Regions from separate parts of the Homo sapiens genome. Here regions 1, 2, 4 and 5 are each linked to region 3. The links come from fine-mapping of genetic effects on gene expression. A gene starts in region 3. Each other region holds a variant in brackets. All regions are shown on one strand. Distances are from middle to middle.

Region 1 (5,109 bases), 27 kb before region 3:
ACACATATTGGATTAGAGGTCCACTCCACATTAGTATGACTTCATCTTAACTAATTACATCTGTAATGACCCTGTATTAGGCTGTTTTTACATTGCTATATAGGAATACCTGAGGCTGGGTAATTTGTAAAGAAAAGAGGTTTATTTAGCTCACAGTTCTGCAAGCTATGTAAGAAGTGTGGCACGGGCATCTGCTTCTTGTGAGGACCTCAAGAAGTTCACAATGACTGGGGAAGGCAAAAGGGAGCAGGAAGTGTCACATGGCAAGAGAAGGAGTGAGGAGGGAGAGGTGCCACATTCTTTTAAACAACCAGATCCTGCATGTATAGAACAAGAACTCACTCATTATTTCGAGGATGGCACCAAGTCATTCATGAGGGATCTGTCCCCTTGAGACAAACACTTCCCACCAGGCCCCACCTCTAACACTGAGGATCATATTTCAACATGAGATTTGGATGGGACAAACATACAAACCATATCAGAACCTATTTTGAAATGAGGTCTTATTTTGAGGTACTGGGAGTTAGGATTTTAACCCATCTTTTTTGGGTAGGGACACAATTCTTAATACTTTCTTTATATTCTATAACTATAATAAGAAAAATTTTAAAAAGTAGTAGGGGTGCTAAATATTGAATTGATATAATATTTAACCTAACTTTTTAATATCAGATTTTATGTTTGAAATTGGTATACTTTCTTTCTAATTATATGTGATCATTACCATTGGTGGGAAATGTTCATATGAGTAGGTAGTTTAAAAAGTGAGAATATTTTTTATAACTACTTAACAATTTATGACAGTTGGAATTATATCTAAAGAATCTATCATCCCTTTTTTTCAGTGACAAATGTAATAGTAAATTTCTTGCAAAGATGATGATTTTGAATACAATCAAATTTTCTCTTGATGAACAAACACATTATTAGGATAGTCATACTATAGCTAGAAAGAACACTACTAAAATTGTAGTCAGCACAAATTTTATATATTTCTTTATTTCTAAACATTGTGCCATAAGAAATAAACACTAATATATTTGAAGACAGAATTTTATCCTGCTTGCAGCTCCAATAGGAAAGAACCCCTACCTGGCTTCCCCTGCACAGGCAGTTGTATCTTGAGCTGTGCACTCTCCTCTTTGGGCTACCAAAGTTGATGTCCAACTTGGCCTCTCCCAGATCTACTCAATAGAACAGTGAGTGCCATATGATGCTGGGACGGAGGGAGGCACACTTTCAGATCCACTTTTCTTGGATGACCATCACAGGAACACAAAATAAAAATGCTTCTAATGATAGCAATCAGCTATAAGGTTCTGTACTTCCAGGTCCCACATGGGTGAAACAATATCTCTTTGTTTCCTGTTTGTTGGGAAGCTCTGAGATAGAGGAAGTGGAGTCCTTAAAAGAGAAACAGATTAAGCAAGAGAAAAAAAAAAATAAATGAGTGTAGTGTCCCAGAAACTAAGCAAGGGTGTGGTCCACAAAGTCAAGTGCTGATGATAGTCTGGGTAGATAAGGACTGAAAGGGTCCCACAAAGAGGTTACTGGAGACCTTGTTGAGAGTAGTTTTAGTCAAGTGGTAGGAGCCCAAGCACAAGTTTCCATGGGTTGGAACTGGAAATCAGAATGGCAGTGAGAAGTGGGGACAGTGGAGGCAAACAACTGTTCTGTAAGCTTGGATTGCTACTCCGTGTCTCTAAGTTTCCTAGTTTTTTGTTTTGTTTTCTTTTGGTAAAATAGGGCATATATGAACACCAACCTCATAGGATTTTTGGGAGGATTAAAAGAATTAACATGAAAGCTTTCTGAAAATTATAAATCACCAGAAATGTATAAATACAGCCAATTATTATCAGGGATTTTAATGAAAATTTGTGATTCTTCTTGTACCATCCCCTCTCCCCAAAGAACCATCTCTTTTAAGTCTGGTTAAAAAAAAAAAAAAAAGTAGTTAAACCAGGAAATAGAGCTAAACGGTGGCCAAAATTTTTGATCCTCTTTTGTGCTCAGATGATAATGGAAGTAAATCCCCCGGGATGCCACTAAGAAAGAGAAGAAAATCACCCTGAAGAGCTGTCTCTCTACAAACTGTTGGATTTACTCTCTGTGAAGAACGTATGTTTTATTAACAGTGATTTAACTTTGGGAAAATTCTGAGAAAAAGCTGAAAGACACTATGATTAATTCCTTGAATTTGCAGAGAATATAAATTCTAGGAAGACCTGAGAGTATAGATTTGGAATGTGTGTGGCCTTGGCTGGGCCTGAGAATCATAATGGAAATAGATTGCTATTATAGAAAGACCCATCAGTGAACCTAGCTGGGGTCTTCTGCTATATTCAGCTAGAGGAAGGCCATGTTCCAGAAGAAAGTATTCCTAGACCAAAAAACTTGGCTACCTTTTCCATAATGCATTCACAGCAGAACAGCTAAACCGGGTGATAAATATGTGTGATGCTGAAGTGGTGTCAGGTATAGCTTATGTAATTGCAACTCTACATCCTTAAATCCTGGAATTAGATTTATTTCTGTAATCAAATCATTTCACTTTGCCACATTATTACCTGTATATGATTACTTATGTAGATCATTCAGCTTAAGAAAACATTAAAACTATTTTCAGTATGAATTAAGACTTACACTTTTTTTTTGAGATGGGGTTTAACTCTGTTACCCAGGTTACATTTGATCTCCTAGGCTCAAGTGATCCTCCCACCTCATCCTCCCAAGTAGCTGTGACTACTGCACTCCAGCATGTGCCACTGCACTCGGCTTACACTATTTTGAATTACTATTTTCATTTTCTGAAAACTGGTGTTAAAGCAAAAATTGTACCAGGTGGCTGGGCATGGTGGCTCACGCCTGTAATCCCAGCACTTTGGGAGGCCGAGGCGGG[C/T]GGATCACGAGGTCAGGAGATCAAGACCATCCTGACTAACACGGTGAAACCCCGTGTCTACTAAAAATACAAAAAATTAGCCGGGCGTGCTGGCGGGCACCTGTAGTCCCAGCTACACGGGAGGCTGAGGTAGGAGAATGGCGTGAACCTGGGAGGCAGATCTTGCAGTGAGCCGAGATCTGTTGCCCAACCTGGGCAACAGAGCGAGACTCCGTCTCAAAAAACAAACAACAAAACAAAACAAAACAAACAAACAAACAAACAAAAAACAATTGTACCAGGCAAAGTAAAATAGGCCAGGATGACATTACTCTATTCAAGGCTATTGCAGTAGGGGAGAGAGGCCAGAACAAACTCTGAACTTGACTCCACTGAGGCAGAGGGGGTAGGGTTTTTTAAGGGCTCGGTTGAACTGGTGGACAGTACTGGAGGACATTAGGGGAAAGTCTTAGGCCATCTGTGTTTGCTAATTGGCTTTATCCAAAGTAAAAATAAACTTCTCATATGTTTATGTTAGAAGGTAGTTTTGCAACTTGGAGCAGATGCCCACTAAAGTTAGGCTCCTACTATCCCACAGGAACTAGGAGATAGGAGTACTATATCCTTTGATAACTATATTTCAAAGAAATTGCTCTCAGGTCCTTGAGACAAGATATTCCTGGGTTGTAAAAGTGGCAAGAACTGCTCACTAGTAAAACTACTCACTAGCCACATGTGGCTATTGAGCACTTGAAATGTGGCAAGTGAGACTGTGAAACTGAATTTTTCATTTTTATTGATTGAAATTTAAATAGCCACGTGACTGGTGCCTGCCACACTGGACAATGTAGGCTCAAATTACCTCATCATCATTTGATCTGCAGAAAAACTGCTGCTATTAAATGTAATGTCTATAATCTGGATCATTCTCCAAAGAGAAATTATCACTGGCGATTAGAGACGCTTGTACTCACTTTGGATGGTGGCAGTGAGAATTAAGTTAGATAATGTATATGAAAGTGCCTAGTAAAATGCCTAGTATAAAACAGGCACCAATGATTTTAGTTTAGTTTTCAGTCTCCTTCAGGGGACACAAAATGAATTGTGGAAGAGTGTTCAAAGTCAAGAACATGACAAATAATTGCTGGTATGGGTGTTGCAGGGGCAGAAGTGTTAATATTCCTCATGGTTACATGGTTACAAGATACTCTGGCTGTTTTGTAATCTACATGAAGTTATTTAATCTTGGAAATAAGCACCTTCTTTATGCTTACTCAAATAAAAATGCCAAATTGTAAAACCATAAACATTTGGGTTACTCTCAATACATTTAATAATAATCTATTATTGCATGATGTTATTGATGCATTCTTTTCCTTAGAGGAGTTAAAATAAAAACCTTTATAAAGACTAAGTCAGAACATCTTCTAAAGATTCTTGTGATGTAAAGGCATGATTTTATATATTACATGTGTTCAAAAGAAATTATATCTTCTTCTGACAGTGAATTATATATTTAAAAATGTGGGATATACAGAAGAGAAAAGGAAAAGTAACATATATAATGAAGGAAAGAACAATTTTGGCAAATGTGTTTCAGCAGAATATGAGGATGTTGGCATACTACAATTGGCCTTAGTCTGAAAATAAGCTACTGTAGCTCCAGCCATCAGAAATTCCACATTTTTTAGCTGTGGGTATACAGCTGTGGGCTGGTTTCTCCCAGACACTATATTCTCTCCTATGTCTGACTTGTCTTTTTCTCCACTGTTGGTCACCATCATCTATTTTCAGTTGTTTTCAAAAGTTTTAATTTTCTCCTGGGAATTGCATAGTGATAAGTTTCTCCAAGAGATGCTTAAATTTTTATAACATGATGAGGATGTTTATATGAAAGAATCATTTTGAATGAATTATACTTACTCTCTGATAAGGAGTTTGGGGTGCTGCATTCAACCAAAGGCAGAATAATGGAACTCCTGGTCCTGGATCCCACCATGCTGACACATAAGAATAAATAGATTTTAGTAGTTTATTTCATAATTGGCCTATAATAGGGAGGTATTACATACTGACTTTTTATTCTGAATCTTATGCCAAGGAGATAGGACCCATTACATAATAGCTAGAAAGGTTTTTTTGTTTTGTTTTGTTTCGTTGTTGTTGAAGCAAAATTAAGCAAATTGATTTAAAATTGTTGAGGTTTACACAATGAAGAAGTCATA
Region 2 (5,109 bases), 36 kb before region 3:
TGAAATAAGCCAGGCATAAAACGACAAATATTCCATGATTCCATTTATATGAGGTACTTAGAGTAGTGGAATTTATAGAGACACAAAGTAGAATAAAGGTTTCAAAGGACTGCGGTGCAGGGATGAGGATGATAGGGAGTTGTTTAATGTGTATAGGAGTTTCAGTTTTCCAAGATGAAAAGAGTTCTGGAGATTGGCTACACAACAGTGTAAATGGACTTAACACTACTCAACTATATACTTAAAAATGGTTAAAGTGATAAATTTCATGTATATGTTACCAGAATTCAAAACAAAACAAAAAGAGCTTTGGGGGTGATAGAGGGAGGCCAACAAAATATGGGTGGGGAAATAGACAAAATGGATAAAAATTGAGAATAAGCAAGTGCAAAATTTAAACCCTTATAAAATGGTTTCATGTTACTAAACAGGAAAGTTTTACTCCACTAAGTTTTGCTGATACAGACATATCTGTTATGTGTTCCTTTTTTGGTTTCCCAGAAATCTGCTCCAGGGGCAGGAATAAACCTTGTAAATCTTGATCTATTCCCCAGCTGTACCCATGAGGCCATGCTGTATAATGCTTAGAAAGAGACAATGCATTTCAAGAGCAGTGACAAAACATCCCTGGGGCATAGTGGCTCCCTAGCTACTGCAGGACATTGCAGGATTCTCATTGGGAACCACTGGTATAAGATCCTAATAAGCTTTTTCCAGCTGTACTTAAATTGCTAATGAGAGCAGCATAATTATGTCAGCTTGCAAGCTACTCATGCAATTTGAGAAATCTGGAAAGATGGTGGCAGTTGTCGATGCACAAAGTAATACCTTTAATGCTAGAATTACGTTGTCTAACATGCAATCATCTTCGACATCACCAGAAACCAAGTCATTGCTGGCGTAACATAACAGAAAAGTGAGAAATACAAAATCCTTACAAAATTGTTTTATTTTCTGAATAGGTTGATATTTCATTTGGATTTTACTGATGTTTATGCCATCTGCCATTTTCTCACATTTTAAAAACATCCGTAATGTTCTCCACATTTTCTATCTTATTTTATAAATAAGATAGTATGCAATCATTCTAATTACATAATATTTACTTTTAAACTAATTAATTACATTTTATAAGTAGATGCTATCAGTAATGATTTCTTACTGACAATAATTATTATCTTTATAAAAATCACAATAATTGTTAGCATTTATGAAGAGTCTAAAAGAGGTGACAAAGCTCAAATTCCTACTACATCCTCAGAGTTGTTGCTATAGTATGTTGTTTTTCTTAGAATGTTATTCCCATTGTTTTAAAAGTTCTTTATCATTATACCAACAAGAGAAATATAATCCCATTTAGCAGAAATTAGATAATTCTAGATAAAATTTTTTATATAAAACACAAAACCTAGTTTTAGGCACTTGTCTTTAAAAGAGACAAATATATTTGGGCATGTAGAGATAGTAGCAACTACTTTGGAAAAATCTAGAAAACTTTTGTGTGATACATGATTAACAAGCCTAAGAATACTAACTTAGAGGAATTTTCAGACACAGTGTATCCTTGTTAAAATATTTGAAGGGTTATCAGGTAAAAGATAAATTATATTTCTATGGCACCAACAGGTAGAAATATGACCACGAGATAGAAATTAGAGTGGAGGCACATTTGCTAATATAAAGTCAGTAGTTCCTATGGCTAGGTAGAAATTTTAAAATTACATATTAAGGTCTGCAAAATGTAATTTTATTTCTTATAAGTCTATCAGATTTTATCTCAAGTGCCCAATTGTAGGAAAAAAGCTATTCGGTGTAAACTAGGTCAGTTCAAGATTCTCCCCCTCCACATTCTCCCAGGTTTGATTCTGAAAACAATAACTGTGCCCTGTGTTACAGAAGGAATCTTAAGGTGGCCCCTATAATCCCTGCCTCCTGATATTCATGCCTTCTGTGGTCGCTTCCCATTGAGTGTGGGCAGAACCTATGACTTGCTTTGAACCAATAGGTTATGGCAAAAGTGATGGGATTTTAATGATTCCATGTATTCAATTGTATGTGTGTGATTATGTTACATAAGACTGTGGTGCCGACTTCTTCCTCTCTT[G/A]TTGGTTTGAGGAAGCAAGCAGCCATGTTGGGGAACTGCACATGGTGAGTGGGCAGCCCTCTGGCTGAGGATGGCTTCCAGCCAACAGTCAGCCAGCAAAAGAGGCTACTACCACAAAAGAGAAGTTCTACAGCTGCAAAAGAAATAAAATTTACCAACAACCTGAGTGAACTTGGAAGTGGGTCCTCCCCAAGTCAGGCTTCAGATGAGATCATAGCCTCAGCAGTCTTTTTGTTTTGTTTTTGAGATAAGGTCTTGCTCTGTCACCAAGGCTAGAGTGCAGTGGCACAATCACGGCTCACTTGCAGCCTCAATGTCCTGGACTCAAGTGATCTTCCCACCTTAGCCTCCCGAGTAGCTGGGACTACATGTGCAAACCACCATGCATGACTGATTTTTAAAATTGTTTTGTAGAGACGAGGTCTTGCTATGTTGCCATGGCTGATCTTCAACTCCTGGCCTCAAGTGATCCTCCCACCTCAGCCTCCCAAAGTGCTGGGACTATAGGCACAGCCACTATGCCTGGCCTGGCTGCAGTCTTATAAGACTCTAAGCAGAGGTACTTAGCTAAGCCTACCTGGCATTCCCTACCCATAGAAACTATGAGATTAATAAATGTGTGTTATTTTAAATGGCAAAGTTTGTAATAATATTATTATGCAGAAGTTGTTAACTAATTCACCTTGACATCAGTGGAAAGGGAGCACATAATCCTTGGTCCTCATCTGTCTTATTCCTTCCTTTGTTCCTCCATTCTTTAAACAAGTATTTATTGAGTGCCTATATGTCAGACATACATCACAGAACAAAGTTGGCAAAAATCCTTGCCCTCCTAAGGCTTTCCACTCTTGTTATATGGTGTTGAGGTCTTCAGTTTTCAGGCCAATCCAGTCCTCAAGGATAGTCAGCCTTCCACACTGTCATCGCTGAGGTTTCCACACCAAACCCTTATATCCCAGCCTGAGGATCCCTCAGGTCCTCATGCTGTCAGGGTTGTACCTGGACTATTCTCAGCCAAAGAAGATATCTGGCAATTCCCAGAGCTCCTTGGGCTGTGTAAAACTCTGGAACTGCCTAAGATCTTTGGCCTAACAGTTTGCCCTTTCACAGTCTCTGCTTCATGTTTCCCAGAGTATAACAGCCTGGGAAATGCTTCAGAGAATCTGTTGACTCTCAAGGCTGTGGGAAAACAGCGCAGTGCAATGCCCACAAATTTATCCATCTAATGCCTCCACTATCTTCCTGCGAATTAGATGAAGCCTCACCTCTGAGTCAATGCGGTTATATACAGTATGGCTTGGTGCTTTTGTGGGAAGAAAAAGGGTCTCCTTCCCCCAGCCCAGCAACAGAGTATGGGACTTAGTTAAGGAGGCACAAGTGAGACTCCACCTCTCACTTCCTTCTTGGGCGGGTACATCTGCATGTATGCAAACCATATATGATATATGATGGCTCCTCCTGAGTTCCTCCTACAGCTCCTGAGTTCCTGCTTCAGCCTCTCGAGTAGCTGGGATTACGGGCACGTGCCATTACACCCGGCTAATTTTTGTGTTTTTACTACAGATGGGGTTTCACCATGTTGGGTAAGGGGTAGGGAGCACCAAGGTGAATAGTGTCTGGAGAACAGTTAAAGTCTCACATTCTTTCTTCTCTAATTCCTCCTCAGCTCAGAGGAGGAGAGTAATTTATCCCTTTTATTTGGAATTGCACCAATTTTTTGGCTCTTAGGGCCAATGGATTACTTCAGAATCTTCATGTAGTCAGAGAATGGGAGGAACCAGGGTAGGGAGGAATTGGGTCATTAATTCATCCAGATCCTTCTTGAAGAATTTGACAACCTGAAGTCTTGTGTCACTTGAAGTCACCCTTTTAAAGCACTGGAAGCTTTAGACTGCAATTCTAATGGCCCAAATGGGTGAGAGTCATGGAGTGAGAGGTACAAGGGAGAACTCATCACAGGGTGGCAATAATGTTGTATCTCACTACCATTTATTGATGCCCAGTATTGCCAAATGTTGTTCTAAGCACTTCACATTTAGTACTTACAAAAAGCCCTATAAGGTAAATATTCAGCCACATTTCATAGATGATGAAAGTGTGGCTTACAAGATTAATGTCTCCAATATCACAGCCTTAAAGAAGTAGAAATGAGATCTGAAGCTATAACTACCTAATCCAAAGCTTGTGAGTTAATATTTTTAGCTCTGTTATGTGCCAACCACTGCTGAATATACCAGAACTACATCAGTATTAAAACTACTCTACTACCTTAGAACAGAATATGTCAGAGAGGTAAAAATTCTTGATCACTGGAAGCATTTAGGCAAGACTAGAAGACTGCTTGATTGAATAGTTTCTATTAGACAGTAATGTATGGCATTCATTAAAAAAATAGAAAATTAAAGCTTGAAATAATCATTTAACATAATGATTGGGCTGTGTAAAACTCAGCCCAAGATTCAGAAGTATAATTTTCCTTGGTAATTCTACAAACTCATTATTAAACTTTGGGTGCCCAGTAATAGTTATGAAATGACAATAATGTTAAGACTTCATTATTATTAATAATGCTCAGACTGGGGGTGTGGTTGCACTGTGGCTAAGCACAGAGCCAATGAAAAACATACTTTTCCAAATGAACACCTCTAATATCTGAATAGTGTTGACCAAATTCTAGAATTGTTTGACCTGCTGCAGGATAATATACAATCTCATAAAAAGGACAATTTATTTGATGCTTGAGAAATAGAGATTAGGCATAAGTACACTATGGTCAGATTGCCTGCTGGTTGCTACAGGGCCAGTGTGACACTCTTTGGGGATGTGCCATGAAAGACTTGCTGCAATTATCCGGTAATCATACATGACACAATGTGCCATAGCCTCAGATGGGCCATGGAAGCAGTTCTGTTTAAAGCTCTTCTGCTCCAACCTCTTGTATCCAGAAGTGAGTGACAGCTAAGCGTCACTGAATTTATTACAGTTGTTGAGCAAAAAGGTAGGAA
Region 3 (5,109 bases):
GGGTTGACTATCTGAGAAGAAGGAAAAGAATCAGTGCTTTGTAAAGAAAATCAGTATGTTGCATGCATTTACGGTTATAAATAGCTATATATGTGAAACTAATAAGGTAGTATAACTTGAGTTACTCTGCGATTCATGTAACAACATCTGTATGAACATTACAATAACACAGGTATGTATATTTGATCTTTATTTATTTAAAACATTTAATTAAGGGCCCAAATGCATTGGATTAGACTTGTGCTCTCTAATTCGATGGTCACTGGCATGTTACTAAGCATTTGAAATGTGGCCAGTGCAAATGAGATACTCAGTTTAAATTGTATTTGATTTTAATTTAAATATAAAACAGATACTCAATTTAGTCATTGGAAAACTTTAAGGTATATTTGCAACAAGTTAGGTATGAGAGTCTACTATTGCAAATGTAAGTTTTATAAAATTGAAATACAGATCAAATTTCTGATAAAAATTTGGTGTCTAAATTGAGATGTGTTATAAAATGCACACTAGATTTTGAAGACATAGTAGTAGTGTGCTTTTTGTGTGAAGAAATACAGAATCATTTAGTTAATATTATAAATCCTCACCTAGATATGTATTTTTTCTATTAATCTTTTTTATCTCATGAAAGTAAAATATTAGAATTGCTGTATGTACTAAGAGTTATTTCCTGAATTTTCTATACTTGCAATCTCAACTGACATTACATCAGAGTATCTATTACAATCATATTTTATGTTGTAAAAGCTCTTTGTGTGCTAAACTATAACTTGGGAAAGAAAAATCTGATTTTGACTGATGGCATTCTCACCTGTGTATAACAGAAATCTATGTTTTAGTCTCTTAATTTGTGAATGATACCCATTCTTAACATTACCAATTGCTTTCAGAGTGACAGTGCAACCACAGTTTGTTACAAGGCAAATTAAAGCAGTTTTTTTCTCTGCATCTGTTTTCCTACGTTTTTGGAAATAAAACCTAACCTTATGAGATTATTATTTAAAAAAGACTGAAAATTTTGATATTCTAGCTAACATTTATGTAGAAAAATAGGTTCTTTCTAGTATTCTTGGAACTACATATGAATGTACTAAATGGCTTCTTCAGCTAGGCCTTATCCTGTTTCATTCAAGATGACGGCGGTTATTTTAATAATTAAAATAAACATACAGATGAAAGATGTGAACTTTACCTACTACTGGCAGGATATTGTAATCCCCTTGTAATGTTGCCTTTGAGGGAGAGGCCATATACTCTTTGTGGGTTACTCCCTGTACTTATAACACTTTTCCTATCTGTAGATATTAAATCTCAGAAACAGGAACAGGTAGGTAGTATATCTAAATTCATGTAATAAGTACTTTATTATAATAAGGGTCTGTTGTACTAACATTTTTGTTTCTTCTTAAGCAGCTTGAATTGGCTCCCATGCCAGCTGTTAAACTGTTTCCTCTCACATAAAACACCCTAACTGTAATGTGTCTCAGTTAATTCAGGAGAGTGAGTTGTGTAAAGTACACCTTTTTCTTAGATGTTGTAGGATTGAGTATTTATGGAGTATAGAATTAACAATGAAAGGTGTCATTTAACTTCAAGGATTTTTTTCAAAAAGAACTTTGTGATGCCTAGAAAATATTCTCTATAAAAACAACGAATTCTAGATAATTCAGGCGAGGTCAAAGAAGCTTCTAAATGTAAATACGGACAAAATACAATTACTGTAAGAAATCTTTCTGATAAGGCAAAGTTAACATAACTAGAAATGAAAACACTGTGATTGGATGTGTGTCTAGTATATGGAGATATAAAATCAGCAAATAATCTCAAACACTATCCTTTGTAATATCAGTATGCAGAGACAAATGGGACAGAAACTAGCAATCCTATTTAACTGAAAAGGAAACTGGGGCACAGAAGGCTTTAGTGTCTGTTGCTATTAATTTATTTTTATCAGACAGGCACTCCTTTTGGCTATGATCTGACTATTCCTCCAGTCCATGAACCTCCAAGCATAAATATCAATAAAACAATAAAAAAATGGCCCGGCGCGGTGGCTCACACCTATAATCCCAGCACTTTGGAAGGCGGAGGCGGGCGGATCACCTGAGGTTGGGAGGAAGGCCTGAAAGACTGCTTACTCATCATTATTCAGAGAGAGCAGTGGTTCTTGAACATCAGGTTTCTAGAACTCCCAGAGAAATAATATACAAGATAAACAGGACTGTTCATTGGGCCTTTGCACCCTAACACCTTGACTCTTATCTTATTGACATTCAAATACAATTCCGGTGGAAAATCTGTAGAAACTGACAGGTGTGGCGCCTGAGCTCTCCTCTCTGGGCTTCCTCCCAGTTCCCTTGGGCCTCGGCATTCTGGGTCAAGGTTGGTTCCCTCCGGCCTCAGGGCCCCGGGCATGGCCGGCATCCTGGATGGCACGGCGAAGGTTGTGGATCTGTAGAAAGAGGGCTTCCAAGACGCTAACAAGACAGGAGAGACGAGTCTGATTCTCCTCAGCCTGTCGAGGTGTTCTGTCAACAGTTCTGGGGACCCCTCACGAGTCCTTCCGTCCTGTAATCCCCCTAGGTGTCTGAGCGACCGCCGGCTCTGCCTGAACCGCTCAGGTTCGCACCTTCTGGCATCTTCTCGCACTTTCTCCAGCCTTCCCGGGCAGGGGGATCCTGGCCTGACGCTCCCCGCTCCCTGCCCCCGCCCTGGGTCTCTGGGGTCAGCAGAGCCACCCAGTGCACTGCGTTTAGGCATGCCCACATGGAGAGAGGCGACCACAGCGGTGATCATAAGCCCATGGTGGGCAGAGGCCCTATGGAGCCAAGGGCTCCGGCCGCCACCCCCGCTCCGCCACCAGCAGCGCTGCCAGGACTCGCTCTTCCTCCTCCTCCTCACACGCCGGCTCGGATGATCTCCTGCCATGACTCAGCGCTTCTCGCAGGCTGCCCTGCTGGGGACACCGGCTTCGCTCGGGCCCCTCCCGACGCGTCCACCCCCTCTCGCCACCCACGCCCGCCCCCAGCCGCTGGGCCTTTCCCAGTGCGGCCGCCGCCGCCACAGCTGCAGTCAGCACCGTCACCCCAGCAGCATCCGCCGCCTGCACCGCGCGTGCGGCCCGCCCCGGCCTGACCCCGCCGCCGAACCCGGCGCCAGCCATGGAGCCCGAAGCCCCCCGTCGCCGCCACACCCATCAGCGCGGCTACCTGCTGACACGGAACCCTCACCTCAACAAGGTAAACCCGCAGGCCCACCTGGCCGCCCATCGGCCCCTCTCTATCAGGGTCAGGGCCCTCTTGCAGGTCCCCGCACCATGGCCTCGCCCCTCCGCCGCTCCCCTGGGAAGGTTCCCGGTGAGCGGCCGCGGCCTGGGGGGCCTTGGTGTGGGCAGAAGGAAGAAGGACGCCTAATCGGGTCCGTATCCACTAGAGTGATGGCAGGGCAGTGCTGGTGCCTCTGCACCTCGGCATCCCATGTTAGGGATAGAGGTAAAGGTAAAGGTTAGTGATAGAGGAAAAGGTGATACTTTTCGGCAGCTCTTCTCCAAAAACAAGAGCCCAGACAATGAAAGTAGTATCAGACAAAGTGTGTGAATGGAGTGCCAGGTCAGACTCCATGTGCCACTCACTTACTGGTTGCACACACAGTGTGGCAATTATTGGAAGTTGATAAGGCGAGAAGTGGCTCAACTGGTCCTGCCCAGACAGAAACGTGTACTGAGTGCCTTCAGATCACGTTAGCAATCTGGAAATCCAAGTCCTCTCGGTTTCTGGAGTGACACGGTTAAGAGTCTGGGAATGCGTGGTGGGTGGCCTCTGTCTTGGACACTTTGCATGGCTTGGTAGAAGAACTCTGTCCCAGACATGGGACTGTGGGTAAAGCCATTTCTTTTCTTTCTTTCTTTTGTTTTGTTTTGTTTTGTTTTGTTTTTAATTTGGCTTTCTGGAAGTTAAAAAAAAATTTTGTTTAGAGCTGCTCTCTTTTTATTAAAGGGGAATTCAGTGTACACCCTGTTCAGAGACTCCTTTTCGGATCCTGGTAACATTTCATTTTCCTTCACTGGTGATGCAATATAAGCACTCGGGATGTCTCTCAAATAAAAAATACCTCCGAATTTATCATTTTGCTTCCACACTTATTTTACAGCCAGGTTTGTCTCGGGATTGTTCCTTTTGTGTGTGTGTGTGCGTGCGCTTTGGACATTTCCTATTTATTCAGGAGTCTGAAAATGCCATCAGTCAGCACAGAGGTTTGTTTAGTTATTTTGGTTGTCTCTTTGGTGGACTGCATTTCACATTAAGAACAGAAGCTCAGCTTTTTCCTTGTCGTGTTCCTGATGATTTGTTGATCATATTAATGACTTAAAGACATGATTTATTTAACAAGTTATAGTCAGTGTGAGTGATTTTTTTTGTGTGTGTGGTGACAGGCACCTTTTACAAATCTATGACTGTGTGCTATCTGCCGTCATGTAGCATTATTAAATTGTAAATAATTCCAACTTATTTCTTTCTTTAAAATAAATTTAATTGCTAGTTTGATTGTTTTTTCTTTTCTTTTATTATTCTGCAGGTTTGCCACCTATTTTCAGTAGAACAAAAGTAAAATTTGATGTGACAAAACTATTTGTGACTTGTATGTGTCACCTGCCTACTGTAATTTATGACCAAGTTGTGGGTTGACACTTAAGAAGGACCACATGAGTTGTATAACCTGTTTGATTTTCCTCAAGTTGGGGGCAAGAGTGTCTATTAAGAGTATGTAGATGGCATGAGCAATCCCTGAGCAAGAGTAATTATTGCCTTTACTATGCTTACATCAAGAATTTATTATTATTATTATTATTATTTGAGACGGAGTCGCGCTCTGTCGCCCAGGTTGGAGTGCAGTGGCGCGATCTCCGCTCACTGCAAGCTCCACCTCCTGGGTTCACGCCATTCTCCTGCCTCAGCCTCCCGAGTAGCTGAGACTACAAGCGCCCGCCACCATGCCCGGCAAATTTTTTGTACTTTTAGTACAGACTGGGTTTCACCGTGTTAGTCAGGATTGTCTCGATCTCCTGGCTTCGTGATCCACCCGCCTCAGCCTCCCAAAGTGCTGGGA
Region 4 (5,109 bases), 170 kb before region 3:
GGAGAAAAAGGATTGCAGACCCTTGAATAAAGAGTCACCCATGGTCTGGCGCAGTGGCTCACATCTGTAATACTAGTACTTTGGGAGGCCAAGATGGAGAATTGCTTGAGCTCAGGAGTTTGAGACCAGCCTGGGCAATATAGTGAGACCTTGTCTCTGCAAAATAATTAAAAGCTAGCCAGTTGTGGTGGCAAGCACCTGTAGTCCAAGCTACTTGGGAGGCTGAGGCAGGAGGATTGCTTGAGCCCAGGAAGTGGAGGTTACAGTGAGCCTGATCACGCCACTGCACTTTAGCCTAGGTGAAGAGCAAGGCCCTGTCTCAAAAATAAAATTAAATTAAAAAGAGCCACCCACTATAGAGGGTTAGGTTTTCATTTATGCCCCTATATCCTTTGAAACCAAAAATTTAAATTTTAGCTTACATTTATAAAATCAACTTCCTCTTCCTTCCACAAATCTAAATCAGGTGGTAAATAGAGTTTGTCAAAGTTGTTTAGGCCTGACTAAAGGTAAGCCTCTTGACCTCCTTTGGCCTCAGTTCTCCCATCTATACAATTGGAAACTTGGTCTAGAAGATCTCTAAAGTCCTTCTAGCTTGAAAGTTCCATAATAATAATAGGTAATACACTTAGTAAATGTTTTAATTTAAAATCTATCCTTCCCCCACCCTCTGTTATTGATGTAGCTATGGGTAGTTTCTCATAGGCTTGTGTTAACAGAAAAAAAGTAAGGAAAATATGGACAGGATGCATAATAATTTTGTGCTGAAACATTTCTACGCCTTAGCTGTTTAGATTTTTTGTTTCCAGTCCACTTATAAGGAGTTGATTACCTCAAAGAAATCAATCAACTCTATCTTACTTCCTGCATAGCCCTCTAGAATAATAAAGACTAAGATATTTCTTTGAAATATTCTTCATGCCATTATGCTGTTTTTGTTTGTCATTTATTTCTGTTTTGACTATATTCATCAAGTGGAAAAATCTGTATGTTTAGAAAATTTTCATGATGGCATTCTTTGTAGCTTTAAATATAAGCTTAAAGGATGAGTACTGCAGAGAATCATGCAACTTAATGTCAAAGAATGAGACTGTTCTTGTGATTTTATCAATATCCTTTCCAGTCATCTGGCTGAGAAATGAGTGTACAATGACAATTACATCTGAAAATCACATCATAATTATTTTATTGATCTGTTTAGTTCTATAAATTGTCTCCTGGCTTCTGATAGCTATACAATTTCCATCCTTTATGTTCAGGAGTCTATATATGTCATTATCTGTTTTGTGATTTTCAGTGATTTTCTGTAATTTCTTTCATGCCTTCATTGGTTTTTAAGAAATTATTCAGAGATTTAATTTTTAATAAAAACCTAAGCTAAAATCTCTTTGGCCATTTTGTGTGGCCATTTTTTAAATATTTTGTCTCTCTACAATGGGTAAGTGGTAGAACTCTAGAATAATCAGAAAACCAGTTATGTTTTGTTTAACACAGCATAACTTTACAACTTTAAAACATGCCTTTTTGAGGTCCTATGCAATATGTACAGCAACTAAGTAGATTTCTTTAGAAATAAAGCTTAATGGATTTTAATTTCAGAAGGATGGCTATTTAATTTCATCCCTATCAAATATTAAAACTGTTAATGTATTTTAGTACTATATTTAAATTACACATTTTAAAAATAGTAAATTTTTGTGATTTTTAACAGAAATATTCTTATTGATACACAAGTAATGTTTTAGTCCTTTCAATGTAGGTAGTTCATGTAAGTCATTAAAAAATTTTTGTCAGCTACATTTATTAAATGCTTCATTTTTTAAAGTGAACTTTTAAGAAATGAGATCTTCTTTTTATGATCATGCAGAACAGGATTGCAAGGGCAGTGTTACGCCTTTAAAATTTAGTAAAATTTATAAATATTGACAAAAATAAAAGGCAAAATCCTTAAAAATAACCTATTTTTATACTGATGCAAATTTTACTGACAATAGCACATTGATTTGAACAACACAGGGTTTTTCTAAATACTAGAATGCTAAATTGATGCTAATTCCTCTGCACACCAACAAGGATACCCTTTCAATCAAATGTGTCAATTTGTGAGCAAACCTTCATAAGGTTAGTAGTCTGCAAACATTAAACCAAAGTGACTGGAAAACCAAAGAACTTACCTCACAAGCCTGATCACATTGGGTACATGTTGGTCAAAAAACTAAGTTAACCAACCTTCCTTAAAACCAATAATTAAACACTTTCAACTAGATTTCATGTTAGAGCCTTATAACCTGGGACCTTTGGAGACAAAGAGGAACCAGAATGTGACATTTGGGCTGTTGAGAACAATTGGAACCTTTGTGCTGAGTGTGTGATTTAAGATGGCTTATGTGGCCAAAGTAGATGGGGAGAGAGAATAGGTCAGGCTGAGGGAAACAACAGCTCTTAGATTTGAGAGAGGTAGTCATATGATAAAAAGTTTGAGAGGAAAATTCTGTCTTAGAGTGCTGGAAGGGGAA[A/G]AAAGACTAGTCTGCAGCAGTCAGCTCAGTTTATGGATTAAGGCCTAGACTGAGTCCATAATTGAAGAACAGCAGGAGCACGCATTTCTAGGAAATAGAGCTGGTTGAAAAACTGACAGAATGTAGAAATTAACTGCAAATGGGTAACATGAAAAGGAGAGCTGAACTGGAAATAACTTTAGTTTGCAATACTGGAAAGATAATGCTGCCATTTATAATGAAAAAAACTAGATATTTAAAAAAGTTTTGTTTATTTTTTAACAAATTCAAATTTTATCTCTCACAGTTCTGGTGGCTGACTGAGCTCAGCTGGGCAGTTCTCACTCAAGGTCTCTTTTGTGGCTGCAGTCAGACAGTGATTGGGCCTGGTACCATCTGGACACTCATTCATGTCTCCTTCGGGGCTAGGAAGATTCAAACAGCTGGGGGTGGGAGCAGCTGCAGCTCCTACCTTTAAGAAAATTTCTGACAGGTGTAGATGAGTTAAGTTGATAATATTTAGTTTCAAGTAACAAGAGAAGAATTAAAAGGAGATATCTTGCTGACAAGGGGATTTTTTAAAACCCTCTTCTAAGGATGTAGCTATAACAATATGGGCTTTATCTCCTTACACATAAGTGATAACCTAAAGGGGTCAGCCCATAAATATCTATTTGATCCCTGGCACTAATGTAACTGATGTTTATTCAATTATAAAGAAGGGAGTAATATAATAGAATGAGGCATATTTCATAAAAAATGCAGTACAGTGGCTAAACACATAAAGCTCAGACAGCTCTGAGCCAAATCCTAACTCTGCCATTTTCTTGCTGTGTAACTTTAGTCATCAGACTTTTTAAAAAAAAAATCTTTAATTGAAAAAGTATATACATATATATATAATGTACAACATGATGTTTTGAAGTGTGTATACATTGTGGAATGGCTAATTGAGCTAATCAACATAGATGCATTACCTCACTTATTGTTTGTGATGAGAACACACACGCTTTAAGCTTTGGTTGTGTTATCTACAGACTGGAGACAGTAGAACCTAAATCACAAGATTGTTACAGATAAATTTAATAATGGCAATATATATGACTGCTATGTGTTTCTACTCTTTGCAATATTATTGGCCTCAGTTCCAAATTTTATAGGAACCAAAAAAAAATAAAACAACTGACCTGACTCATGGCAAAATATTTACAGCCCTCCCAACATCTTTTCATACTTCTCTTACATTCTTCTGCCCTGCTTGTAGAGGGTGTGTTGCTCTAAGTCCTGAAGTATAGTATCTTTAACATGGCATTTAGAAAGTAGGCCTACTCTATCCCTTGATGTATTCTTCATTCTTTAGTTTTATTTATTTGGCCTCTCAGCTGACCTGACACTCAAAACCTATATTCCTGGCTGGGCATAGTGCTGTAGGCCTGTAATCCCAGTCCGTGAGGAGGCTGAGGCCAGAGGCTCACTTGAGACCAGTAGTTCAAAGCTATAGTGAGCTATGATATTGCCACTGCACTCCAGCCTGGGCAACAGAGCAAGACTCTGTCTCTAATAATAAATAAATTGAACATATATTTCCTCAGTATAACAAAGAGGAACAATCAGATCAGATTAATCCATAAGATATGAATAACTGATGTCCTGTTGTCCCTTCTAAGGGATATTTGTGATTTGGTAAAGGGCCTTTTAACCCAAGTAAGTATCTAGTTTAATGTTTGTTATTCCACATAAAACTAGAACTCTGCATTACTAAAGAGTGTTTCATACTCAGTTTGGGACATGCCAGGTCAAACTGAGAAACAAGTATCTTGACAGTAGCATGTCCTAGAGCCTAATATACTAAGTAAATCACCAAGGAAGAGCATGTACTGTGTAGCCCTTCCCAAGTATATATGACATGTTATTTTCATGACTGAAGGAACAGTGTTCCAGGAAACATGAGTAGATATTGCGGAAGACAGTATTTGGGGATGGAAAGTCTAGCAGGTAAGTGACAGGTTCTAGGTGGGTGCTGGTCTCCACTCTCCAGGGTTTTCTTCTCCTAAGCCTGTCATGTTTATCATGGCTTGATTCCTTCTGTACTTTTGAAACTATAGCATCTCTATGCAAGCTCAAAGACTTCTTACCTTAACTAACATTGTTGGTAGAAACACACTGGGAAGCATCTGTACACATCAGCCATTTGTAAAATGGGCATTTATAAACTGTGGCTGCTCGTATGTTAATGATATTCTATAAATAATAATACACTTATAGTCTTAAAATGTGAAAATATTGTTTTAACCTGTTGAAAATAGATTATTTTCCAAATAACTAGAAAAATATAATTGCATTATGGTATCATACCCTATTTTTATCTCTTTATGTCTTTAAAATAACTTATTGGTTATGTTTGAAAATGCTTTTCAAGGATAGTGAAGACTTAACACTTAGGAATGCTTAGTAAACTTAGTAAGAGTGTTTCATACTCTCATACTTAGTAAACCTTAGTAAACTTAACACTTAGGAATGCTTAGTAAACCTTAGTAAAATTATTGGTTATGTTTGAAAATGCTTTTCAGGGATAGTGAAGACTTAACACTTAGGAATGCTTAGTAAACCTTTC
Region 5 (5,109 bases), 150 kb before region 3:
TGTATTATAGTTGTGTCTGTGTTTATTTGGGGGAGGGATCAGCTAAGTCCACAGTCTATTGAAACTAAGAAGATTTTTAAAAAAAAATAAATAAATGAGCCTAGTCATACATAGCAAGCCCACAAATATGATCAGAATCAAAGAGAGAGAAGAGAGAAAAAGATTCTCTAGAATCCTGTGATTGCCTTTAGTAATAAAACTGTTTTGAGAAAGAATGAAAAAGAAAAATAATATGCAGACACTGTCATGGGAGGTTTAGACTGTTCAAAGGGAACCTTGGTCACTGGACTAAGGACTCTTACCCCATGCCTAAGATTAGATTTTTTTGAGTGAATACATTTACATGTGAATCATAAAGATAAGGCAATAAATATATGATATAATTAAATTTTAAAATGATTTTAGAGATTTTAAACTAAACATTAAGAACCATTTTAAAATTGAGGCGAAAGCTTTGTTAAAAATTGGTATCATTTTGAAACTTGAAAACAAAGACTAACTAGATAGTCTTGAAAATGAACCTATCTATCATAAAAACTATTCTTCTTTATTCAAATTCAGTTTTAGAACTGTCAGATAATACCAATTCCAGAATTAAACAGCACTTGAAATATTGCCTTAGTCGTCTTCTACCCCTTGAGTAAAAATTTTAAGGTGTTTGGTGCATGCAGTATAGTGAAATGATAAAAAATTCTGGAGAGGACAACTTCCAAAGAGGCCAGACTAGAAAAATCATTATCAAAATAATGAAGAAAGGAAGGAATAATGGGGGTGGGGGGAAGCAGAGGGGAGAATCCATAACAACAATGAGTAATTCTTTCCAAGCCATTGAGATTACTGGTAGGATACAGATATTATCCATATCTCAGGTAACATCTGAATGAAAACTTGAAAGTTAAGTTTTTAAATAATAAAAGTAAATATTTCATACAGTGAAGAGTAAAGCTGTCAAACTCTGCTCAAAATATACCAACTGAAAATACAGATGTTTGAAAGCTAGAGGCAGACTACTGGATGACAAAGGTAAAAATGGACTGTTAAGGAAGTTAGGTGTGTTGAGGAATATGCCTAACATCTGAGGTTGGCATCGAGCAGGACAACCATGTTTTTCCATCATAGACACAATTTTAGGGTGACTGCACTATAAATCTGTACTAGTATAAGAGAATTTCACATCCTATCTTTAATTGCAAAGACAAGGGACTATATGGTCCAGCCTATGAGGCCCTTTGTAGTTTTGCATTTGTTCTCTTAACCACATTAATTGCTTAAAATGAGCCACAGAAGTCCTTGAACTGAATTTAAAATACAAACATGCCCAGTGTGGCATTAAAAAGTAACAATTTCCTATAAAAGGTAAAAGTCTACAGAGGATCAATTCTATCATCCTGTGTGGAAGTGTCTTTAGCAGTAGTTTTAAAATTGCACTCTTGTGGCCGGGCACGGTGGCTCATGCCTATATAATCCCAGCACTTTGTGAGGCCGAGGCGGGCAGATCACAAGGTCAGGAGATCGAGACCATCCTGGCCAACATGGTGAAACCCCATCTCTACTAAAAATACAAAAATTAGCTGGGTGTAGTGACACACGCTGTAATCCCAGCTACTTGGGAGGCTGAGGCAGGAGAATGGCTTGAACCCAGGAGGCAGAGATTGCAGTGAGCCAAGATGGCGCCATTGCACTCCAGCCTGGTGACAGAGCGAGACTCCATCTCAAAAAAAAAAAAAAAAGAAAGAAAAAAAAATTGTACTCCTGCAACTGAAACAATATGATGTGTTAGATAGACTATGTAGACTATGACAGTCAGACTTGATATATCTGAATCAATAGAACTTCATTAAGAGTGTGGGCTACTCCCCTTTAGAATAACACATTCATAAGACTAATCATCTGTGATTAAAAAGCAGTGTATCAACAGATGGTTGAGTACCTGAAAACAGTTGGCTCTTCAGTTATAGTGTAGGACAGTTCAAATATGATTACAGGATGCACAAAAGCCTTACTCTGTTTCCAATTCCATTCCATAGAGCACCTTTCTTTTTTTTTTTTTTTTAAGCAACAAGGTCACCCTCTGTTGCATAGGCTGGAGGGCATTGGTGTGAACATAGCTCACTGCAGCCTTGAACTGATGAGCTAAAGCAATCCTCCCACTTCAGCCTCCTGAGCAGCTGGGACTGCAGGCACATGCCATCATGCCCCCTGGCTAATTTATATATATTGATATATATAGATAGATATATAAAAATGAGGTCTCGCTATATTGACCAAGCTGGTCTCAAACTCCTGGCTTCAAGTGATCCTTCTGCCACAGCCTCCCCAAATGCTGAGATTACTGGCATGAACCACCATACCCAGCTAAACGTCTTTCTTAATGTAAATTAGAACCACATAGAAAGATTAGTTGTTTAGGTTTTCCTATTAACTCTATTCCAGGGCCCTAAAACTTTTCAGTTAGTTACCAGGAGGAATTCCTCAAATGCCTCATGAATGACTGTAATGTTCCTGTTTAGTTCTTCATTATAGCAATTATTTTTTTGAGATAATCAGTTGGTCCTTTTATATCACTTAATAGCTGTTTAATTATTCTAGGCTTGTGAGGGCACTTACTTCATAAGAACCGAGTATAATGGGAAAAAGTCATCCTGCCAGATCTCGACAATTTTATAAATGTATGGGAAGGTTACCACTACAGCATTTTTTCTGGATGTGAGAAAGAGGCTGTGTGGTACAGTGGCAAAGAATCCAGACTCTGGAGAATTCCTGTTTGGAATCCTGGATCTGCCATTTGCTTTCATATGACCTTAGACAAATTATCT[A/G]ACATCTCTGACCTCAGCTTTCTCATCTTTGAACCTCATGGGGTTGTTATAAGGATTAGATAAGCTAATGTGTGTTTTAGATTGAACCATTTAAAACTGCTGATTTTCTAGGATCAAAACAGTCAAATATCAGCCATTCGTGTCGTTCATAGGGTTCACCCTAAAAAAGGAAACCTAGAACAGTGCCTGGCACTTGGTGAGCCCTGGGCCAATGTTGGCTTACCTTTAATTTTCTTAGAGAAGGCACTATTTTTTTTTTTCAGTGAACAGCTTTATTTATTCACCTATAGATGTGATCTTAGCATAAAGTAGAAATAGCACTAAGCAGAGTGTCCTAGGTAAATGCACTCTTTTTCCTCTTTTTACTGAATCTTACCAGTGTGTTAACTTCTCTTTGAGTCATTTCTTCTAGCCATGAGATGACAGGAAGGAATCAGATGATCCTGAGGCCCTTTCCATCACTAATATGCTGTGATTCTAAAATAAATTGTCCTTTCCATGGCCAAGTTTTAAGAAGTCAAGAGTCAAGTTTTCTCCACATTCACCTATAGAAAGAGAATCACAACATAGAACAGTTGCCTAAATTTACCAGACAAATTCCAACTTGAGGTACGGGGTAATGTTTTTTAAAAATCAACATTAATACAGCCACCAATCTTCCTAAAATCAAAATGGTCACATTCACAAAAATAATTACTTTTAACCTACCTTGGCTGGGATAAGCTCTTACTGATTTAGAGAACGTCTTCTTCAGTAAAGAAAGTTATATGATACTTATGCCATTCAAATACTAAAATCACTTAAAGTAGCCATCATGAACTGTAAAGATCATCTAATAAAAAACTTTTTTCCAAATTAAAATTTTTTCATACACATATGAGGAAAGCCTAAACCCACATCACTGTCAATTTCTAGGAATAACATAACTCAAACAGCATTGCCACCTGCTTTAGAAAATAGTAGATAATTTTAGTGGAAATCACTTTCAAAATTATAAATCGATTCTATGGAACGTAAACTTAAGGATGTTTTTTGAAACATTGTTTTTGCAAGCAGTTTGTGAAGAAGAGACAATGTGGCTGGATTTGAAAGGAATATATACTTAAACTTTATGTAGGAATGACTTCTGGTAGTAATAAATTCTTTTATAATAGAATATCATCCAGTGTCTTGTTAAGAAATCACTTCCTTCAGAGGCTGTATATTTTTGTTCAGTAGCAATGCAGAGTGATCTCTGCTTCTGTTTCTGTCTGTTGATTGAGAGAAATGTTTTGCTTCCAGCCGTCAAAGGATAAATACTTAATCTGAGGTTGGATTACTTTACAGTAGTCTTTGATTTGTCCTCACCTTTTATATTCAAAAGTGTCCTTCATTTAATAAACATTAATTCAGTGTTTTAGGCACTGTGCAGGATATTAGTGGAAAAAACATGAAAAGAAGACACAGTTCCTGGCCTCAAAAAGCCATCTGGGGTTGGAGTCGGGGCAGTGGGGATAGATACATGTAATGAGAGTAGCAGGGGGCCATGTACCAGGTGCTGAGGATACTCGGCATGTATATGGGGATGTGGGTGGGGTGCAGCTGGTAGTGGGTAGCAGTGTGAGGGCAAGGAAGTCCTCCCAGAGCAGGCATCTGACACTGCGAGTGGCGGATCACAGCTGCAGCCTGCTTTGCTGCAGGGGCCAGTGAGTAGAGACAGAAGGACCTGATCACTACACGAAGGAATTCAAATTATATGAACTGAAAAATGATGGGAAGCTGATAGAAGATTTTGGAGAAGTAACTTTGTCAACATTTTCCACTTGGAAAGATCATTCTGGCTGCACTGTGAAGACTAGATTGGAGGAGATCTAGACTAGAGACAGGATGCCATCCCACTCCGTGACTGTTCATGAATCCAGAGAGCAGGGTTGCGGGGGCCTGCACTGGTGGTAACAGCAGTGGGGCTAGAACATGTATGATAGATGTTAAAGATTTGATATGTATTTTTATGATTTGTTTTGCATTTTATTATAATTTGCAGTAAACATTTTCTAGAAACCGGATATTATGATTTGAAGAAACATAAAATTTCAATGTAATGAGACTGTCTGAATTGTAAACCTAGTGATACCTTATTTGTTTATATACTCCATTGTAATAATAGATTTGCTTGCCATAGTTTCTCTTAATAAGGTTATACTTGTGTGTTATCTTATTTCTAATTAAATTAAATCTCTCATTAATGCATGTCAGATTTCAAAATATTATGCTTGAACAACTTTTCAGAAATGAGCTTCTCTGTTTCACTGAC

What was found. PIP is the estimated chance that this variant, and not a neighbour inherited with it, causes the effect. A credible set is the group of variants that fine-mapping cannot tell apart.
Region 1: its variant is the best candidate, but not a certain one, in a credible set for the expression of ME1 in whole blood (TOPMed, PIP 0.78).
Region 2: its variant is the best candidate, but not a certain one, in a credible set for the expression of ME1 in whole blood (TOPMed, PIP 0.77).
Region 4: its variant is the best candidate, but not a certain one, in a credible set for the expression of ME1 in whole blood (INTERVAL, PIP 0.50).
Region 5: its variant is the best candidate, but not a certain one, in a credible set for the expression of ME1 in whole blood (TOPMed, PIP 0.90).

The regions. Positions count from the first base shown.
Region 1 is chr6:83,456,182-83,461,290 of GRCh38, reverse strand. No RefSeq gene overlaps it. Among named protein-coding and RNA genes, the nearest start is that of ME1, 28 kb to the right of the region's middle. The variant C/T (reference allele first, on the strand shown) is at 2,906.
Region 2 is chr6:83,464,990-83,470,098 of GRCh38, reverse strand. No RefSeq gene overlaps it. Among named protein-coding and RNA genes, the nearest start is that of ME1, 36 kb to the right of the region's middle. The variant G/A (reference allele first, on the strand shown) is at 2,105.
Region 3 is chr6:83,429,010-83,434,118 of GRCh38, reverse strand. It overlaps ME1 (malic enzyme 1), which reads left to right and starts at 3,068. Exons shown (of 14, transcript NM_002395.6): 1 at 3,068-3,242. The coding sequence starts at 3,165. RefSeq lists enhancers at 1,653-2,852, 2,795-2,964, 3,585-3,854 and a silencer at 3,175-3,364.
Region 4 is chr6:83,595,017-83,600,125 of GRCh38, reverse strand. All of the region lies in intron 16 of SNAP91 (synaptosome associated protein 91), which reads left to right. Among named protein-coding and RNA genes, the nearest start is that of PRSS35, 85 kb to the right of the region's middle. The variant A/G (reference allele first, on the strand shown) is at 2,517.
Region 5 is chr6:83,582,475-83,587,583 of GRCh38, reverse strand. All of the region lies in intron 22 of SNAP91 (synaptosome associated protein 91), which reads left to right. Among named protein-coding and RNA genes, the nearest start is that of PRSS35, 72 kb to the right of the region's middle. The variant A/G (reference allele first, on the strand shown) is at 2,817.